Linked DNA regions of Homo sapiens. The protein of the gene in region 2 interacts with the protein of the main gene of each other region in a pairwise test. Each region holds a gene or a part of one and is shown on either strand. Other genes may lie near its edges.

Region 1 (2,776 bases), on a different chromosome or scaffold from region 2:
TGGCAGTGTTTCCATCCAAGTTAATGACACTTCCAATCTTCTAGGTATTCAGGTCAAAAACCTAGTAGTCTTGCTTAATTCCTTTATTTCTCTAACCCCACACCTCTCTCACCCACACACAAATGTTTAATTCATCAGCAAGTCCTTCCAAATATTATCCAACCCAACATTTTACCACCTTGGTCCAGGTCATTATCTCATTTGCATTACTGCAATAACCTCCTAATTTGTCTCTGTACTTCCATTCTTGCCTTCCCAAGTGCTTTTCTCTAAGAATAAATAAGACAGTCATGTCTCTCACAGAATATAATCCCAAATGTGGAGCCTAACTATTAACAGGAGCATACATTACTTCACATTAGAGTACCGCATTCTGCAGAATCCTAAGCTAATTTTCCAGTGTCCCTTAGAGATACTTACAACAGAAGGCCCCAAAATCCAGAGAGGCAAAGTTTAATCACAGTTGAACGATTACTGTTAAAGACTAGGGAAGAAGTAACAGAAAGTAGCAGAAAGAACATGGGCTTTAGAGTCAAACAGACCCAAATGTTAACCCTAAATCTGACACTTTATTCGTTCCATGACTTTCAACCACAGAATTAAAATGGTGATGATTATAATAATAATACCAAAATTAATGTGGAATATTTGCAATTTCCCAAGCTAATAAATGTTAGTCTGATGCCAAAAACTACTCTCATAAGGTGATTTAATGAAATGATACAACAAAGTTAAGGGAAGAGTAATTGACAGTGTGGAAAACATATTTATATTTGATGAGACACTTAAGTTCTACTGCCTGTTCAACAATAGAGCATCTAAAGTACAAGATGCTGTTTTGTTTATTGTTTTAGTCACTTCTCGGGACCAAAATATTACACAACTCCAAATGTCACCAATCACATTATAATCTATAAGTTTCAGTAATAGAGTCAAGGTATCTTTAAGATCAACTAACAGTAGGCCGGGCGCGGTGGCTCACATCTATAATCCCAGCACTTTGGGAGGCCGACGCAGGCAGATCACGAGGCCGGGAGATTGAGACCATCCTGGCTAACACGGTGAAACCTCGTCTCTACTAAAAATACAAAAAAAAAAATTAGCCAGGCGTGGTGGCAGGTGCCTGTAGTCCCAGCTACTCGGGAGGCTGAGGCAGGAGAATGGCATGAACCTGGGAGGTGGAGCTTATAGTGAGCTGATATCATGCCACTGCCACTGCACTCCCGCCTGGGCGGCAGAGCAAGACTCCGTCTCAAAAAAAAAAAAAAAAAAAGATCAACGAACAGTAGCTATGGTCACAAAGTAAAAGATTTTACAAAAACAAAAATCCAGAAAGGACTACTGGTTGCAAGTTGGTAATTTTCCTCCACATCCCCCGCAATGAAGGATCACACTGCAGAAAAGGATTTACCAAACTACCGAGGTATAACATATAGGTGTTGTTGAATCTCCTTCCTAAACTGGGACTGCATTGATGCTACTTGCTGCTGGGTGAGGGCCTTGTCACAGGTCTGGTAGGTCAATCTATAGCAGAGACTGACCTGTTGAGTCTTTGGATGCTGGAAACGGCTAAGAAACTGTATGGATATAATAGTGTCCTGAGACACTGCTCGGGCCACAGTGTGAAACTCTAGTTCATCAAATCCTTTCTTCTGATCTATCCAAAAACTAACATCATGCACATAACATGGAGGATACAGAGAATGACTTTTAAAGGGTTCTATTTTGCCAGGGACAAAATTTTTCAGGAAACGGTTATCAAACGTCCACAACATTCTCCAGTCAGAGATACACCAGACAAGCATGGCTAATAAGTCCAAGTTCATAGACACAAACACAAAACACTGGTCTTTATGTATAACACTAGTGGCAGATGTGATAACAGACCCAATAATTAGATCCTCAGTACAATCTGGGCTAAAATTATGAGTCTTCACACGAATCATATAATCCTTTCCATTTGACTGAAGGACAAATTTGACTAAACTGCTCAGCTTAGAGCTCTCCGGCAATGTCTGGGTCAGCAGGCTATCTAGAATGCCCTTCAGATGATCCAGCAGTGATTGAAGACAGCCATCCTTCAGATTTTGATTAACCCCAAGGATAAATAAAGTTTCATGAAATGCTGGCATTGTGAAAGGCAAAATGTGGCACTTCTGAAAGACAGGTCCACTGAGGATGTGCAGAGAACCTGAGAGGAAGTCTGGTACTTCGATGACATCCTGAACATGCACTAGGAGAGAAGGTCTAAGGCAGATCTTGGCCTGGCCACAGGTTCCTTCACAAGCTTCTTCTTTACCATCTCTTCCAGGATTCTTGAGAAGGCTAAGTTCTGAAAATGACACTAGAAAGTCTTCCACATCTTGTGATGTCCCACCAGTCAGGGACTCAGAATTTGAGTTATCTTCATGGAGACTAATCCAAAAAGCAGCTGACAGAAAGTCACAATTCCAGAAAGGAAGAACACTGGTACCTTCCTGTGGCAGCAAAGGGTAGGAACACTTCAGCCTTTTTAGCGGGAAAACTTTGCCTAATTCAGCAATGAGTTTCTCATTTATGGTTTTGATAGGATGACATGAAGGTGCTTCCAGGAAACCCCTGTTTAAACACACACAAAAATAACTTTTCTAACTTAAGATAGTAAATAATTATAATGTAGCTAGAATTAAAAATACAAATAGCTGGACAGAAAAGAATTATCTTTAAATTGATCTTGAAAGGAAACAAAGAAATCATCTACCATAAGGAGAAACAGACGTGTATTTCAGAACTCTGA
Region 2 (3,576 bases):
AAAAGCTCTCTGTGGAGTATAGACATAAAGCCAAAAATAAAAACAAACATTGCAGTTGTGATGCAGCATCAGGTGCTTTTACTTCAGTGAATGAAAAATAATGGTCACAACTCAAATGAATGGGAATTTAATATGAATATATGCACCTTACCAGAGATGTTTGCTACCAATGATATCTTAGCAATTCCATATTCCTTACAAAGTCAGTATAATTGTTGTAAAAAAATCAACTGTGGTTCTGAATACCCATTCACAGTTGACCTCAACAATGTATCTGATGTAGGAGACTGAGTATCCGTGACAGGCAGAAGCATGTGATGGTCCTCAGTCCCAAGTGGAAGAGCTAATGGTAAAGTCATATCAGAAGGCTTCACATCCATAGTTTCTGATAAAGGACTTTTTTGTATGGAATCCTGTTCACTCAAAGTATGATCCTCTGCACTGGAGTCTAGAGTTTTATCTGCACCTAGAATGGAAGGAAAAAAAAATCTACATTATCTTTAAAACAAAACTAAACCCCTGAGGTAGACTAATGTACTTACCATTCCCAGAAATTACATTCCAACCACCATACCTTTACTCAAGCGGTTTCTCTTTTGTACATATGCCCTCCTCACTATCTATGTAAATTCAATCTGGGCCTCAAGGTTAAGTTCAAGCACCAACTCCATTTAAAAAAATGGACTTGATTAAGAATGAAACAGGGTGAGCTGTTATATCGGCTTAATCACACATTTGTCAATTTTCATATACTGCCTTGTGGCATCTATCTCTCTTATTGCCATTTAACATTCTACTCAGGTATGCCTTGAATCCTCAACCAGACTGTAAATTCTTTGAGAGTAAATGTCGTTATACTTCTTTAACTCCCTCAAAATATTAAACAGTGATAAGAAATACTCTTTTCATTCACTGAATGTTTTTAATAAGTTGTTCATATTATTCTGTGAGTTCAGAACAGTATGTATGGCACTTTCATATATTTTCAGAGGTGAGAAATTCTGCTCTACTCAAGGGAGCAATCAGCACACTGACTAAAGATGTACTTTTGCCTTCAAATTTTCCAATGGCTTTAACATGCTTCCGTTACTCTAAAGTGTTGACATGATTTTGGTTTCACCGTCCTTGTCACGCAGACAAAACTGCTTTCGTAAAATTGTAATTATCTGTATTCTTCCCAAACTACTCTTCACTTCAACTAGCTAAGGTTTCCTTCTTGTCCCACTGACTCTCTACAGTGTTCTCTGCCCGGAATGAATCCTCTCTTCCCATCTCCATCTTTGAACTCTTCTCCATCCTTCAAGTTAAAATTAAGTTTTTTTTAGTACTTACCTCAGAAAAACATAGTATCTTCTTTAGCACTTTTGTGTCGATTATGCCCTACATTTTCCCTATTTATTTAGTTTATTTAATTATTTATTTAGGTTTCTGGTCTCGCACACCAGGTTGTAAGTGCTTTGAGTACCAGAACTATGCCTTGTTTAACTTCATATTCCCTGAAAGTACACTTTACAGAAATTTAACAAGTGGTTAAATTAATGACTTACTGCAGTTTTTAGATGTTTCTAACTTAATACTTACGATGTTTAAGTATTTACACACCAGAAGGGCCTAGTGTCATGTCGAATAATGACGGAATAAAATGGTAAGCACAGGGAAACTTTTTCAAGAATTCACTTTAACCAATAGACTCAAAACTTGTTGTTTGGCTTTCCATTTTTATATATTATAACAATGTAGGGCTACCTGTTTCCCTATTTCCTCTTAAACATTTCTGGACTAGTGTTCATGATAACACCACCCCCCCCCCCTTTTTTTTCATAATAACCATAGTAAACCCTGAGTTATCCAGACTCCAGTATGGGAAACAGTGACACATAGCTTGCTTATATGTTCCTTCATGCTTGGGACTGTTATTAAGTCAGGTTTTCAAAGGAGGAAATGTTTCAAGTTTTTTTTTTTTTTTTTTAAATAAGAGATTCAATATGAAAAATCCAGAGTGAATGTTTCTGCAAAAAAGCTACTTTCCTCACATGTATATACCTAGTTTTTGAAATAGACATCTAATTTAAACTGCTTAAATGTAAATCTCATCTCAGCATTTTAAGGAATAGCACTAATATGAGCACCAAATTAAAACAAACAAACAAGCAAACAAAACACAAGCATTTACCAGAATGGACTTTTGTTTTGTGCTTCTTTAAATTTTTAATATCTGTGTAAGAATTTCCACATAATTCGCAGATAAATGGTCTTTCTCCTGAAAAACAAATTAGAAGTTTAAATTTCAATATTTTAAAAGCTGCTAGCTAAGACAAAAATATCAATGTTTATGAACACAAGGCAAAAATTATTATAGTGTTTAAATTTGGTTTCAAATTGTCACTTTAATCACCTGGTTATAATATAGTGAAATGAAAGATTCTATACAACCTAGACACTCCTTTATACAAAAAATCTGTATCTCAAGAAAACTTGAGCATTTTCATAAACAGAAATGTATCTGCAAACTAAAACAAACAAAAGCCTACTCTTGTATTTCTATGAAACATTTAGTGAGTGTCAGTTATATGCCAGACACTGGCTAAGAGATACAGCTGGGAGAAAATAAGTGTAATAATCATGGTTTCTGCTCTCAGGTACCTGGCAAATTAGAAAATCCTTAAAAATACTGACAGCATGCTACAATATTACACTTCTTTGGAAATAACTGTTCAGTGCTTTATGGTGTAAACTAAAGCGCGTCAGAATATAAAGTCACCAAAAACTTACTAAATCTCTATTAAGTACTCACATTATTCTAGGTAGGAATTATGAGAAGGAATTTTTAAAAAGAGAATGTCAGAACAGTACTCTTTCAAAGTGGCATTTTCCTTTGTTTTAAAATTTTTTACATTCAATATTTTCTTTATACAATTTACAAACTACTTTTTACAATAAGCATGTCAAAATTAAAATTTGTTCCTAAAAATTGCATACTAAACACTGTTTAGTAAGAAAATCTGATGTTATCTTGGTATTACCTATTCCTTTTCATTTCTTGGTATATCTGTGCAATTTAATCCAAATCATTTAAAAACTATTGATTATCTGGCATATTTCTTGGAAAACCAACACAATTCTTTAACAAATTTAATTCATACTCCAAACAACTAAAAAAAAAACAAAATAAGCAAATAAGTTGATATTTATACATTAAGATATTGCTATAGGTACAGTATGACTAAATACCATATAGTCCATAATGGCTTAAAAGTCAAGGTTTACATAAAAAGAAATTAAGAGAGAACAAAAAATAATACGTTCTCCCTAAACACAGACCTGTATGGGACCGAAAGTGTTTGTTGAGCTCTCCTGAGGAAATAAAACTTTTCCCACAAATACCACATATGTATGGTTTTTCACCTAGATGGAAAATAAAAGATAGCGAAGTGGTGTACTATACCAATATAATATTTATCAATTACAAATAATCTAAAGTAAGCTTTTCTGGAATATTATTTAAATTAAAATCTCTCTATATTGTACTTTAGAGGTATTTTCAGTGATCCAAGTAAATGAATATTAGTAATTATT

What was found. Proteins that work in one complex are often made in the same cells at the same time.
Region 1: the proteins of MYNN (region 2) and FDXACB1 interact in binary tests that used the Homo sapiens proteins (3 or more experiments, as listed by UniProt).

What each region holds. Positions count from the first base shown.
Region 1 is NC_000011.10:111,873,507-111,876,282, forward strand, and holds the end of FDXACB1 (ferredoxin-fold anticodon-binding domain-containing protein 1), read right to left. Parts: intron 2,599-2,776; coding exon 1,416-2,598; 3' UTR 550-1,415; downstream 1-549.
Region 2 is NC_000003.12:169,783,306-169,786,881, reverse strand, and holds part of MYNN (myoneurin), read right to left. Parts: intron 3,406-3,576; coding exon 3,322-3,405; intron 2,261-3,321; coding exon 2,174-2,260; intron 467-2,173; coding exon 204-466; 3' UTR 1-203.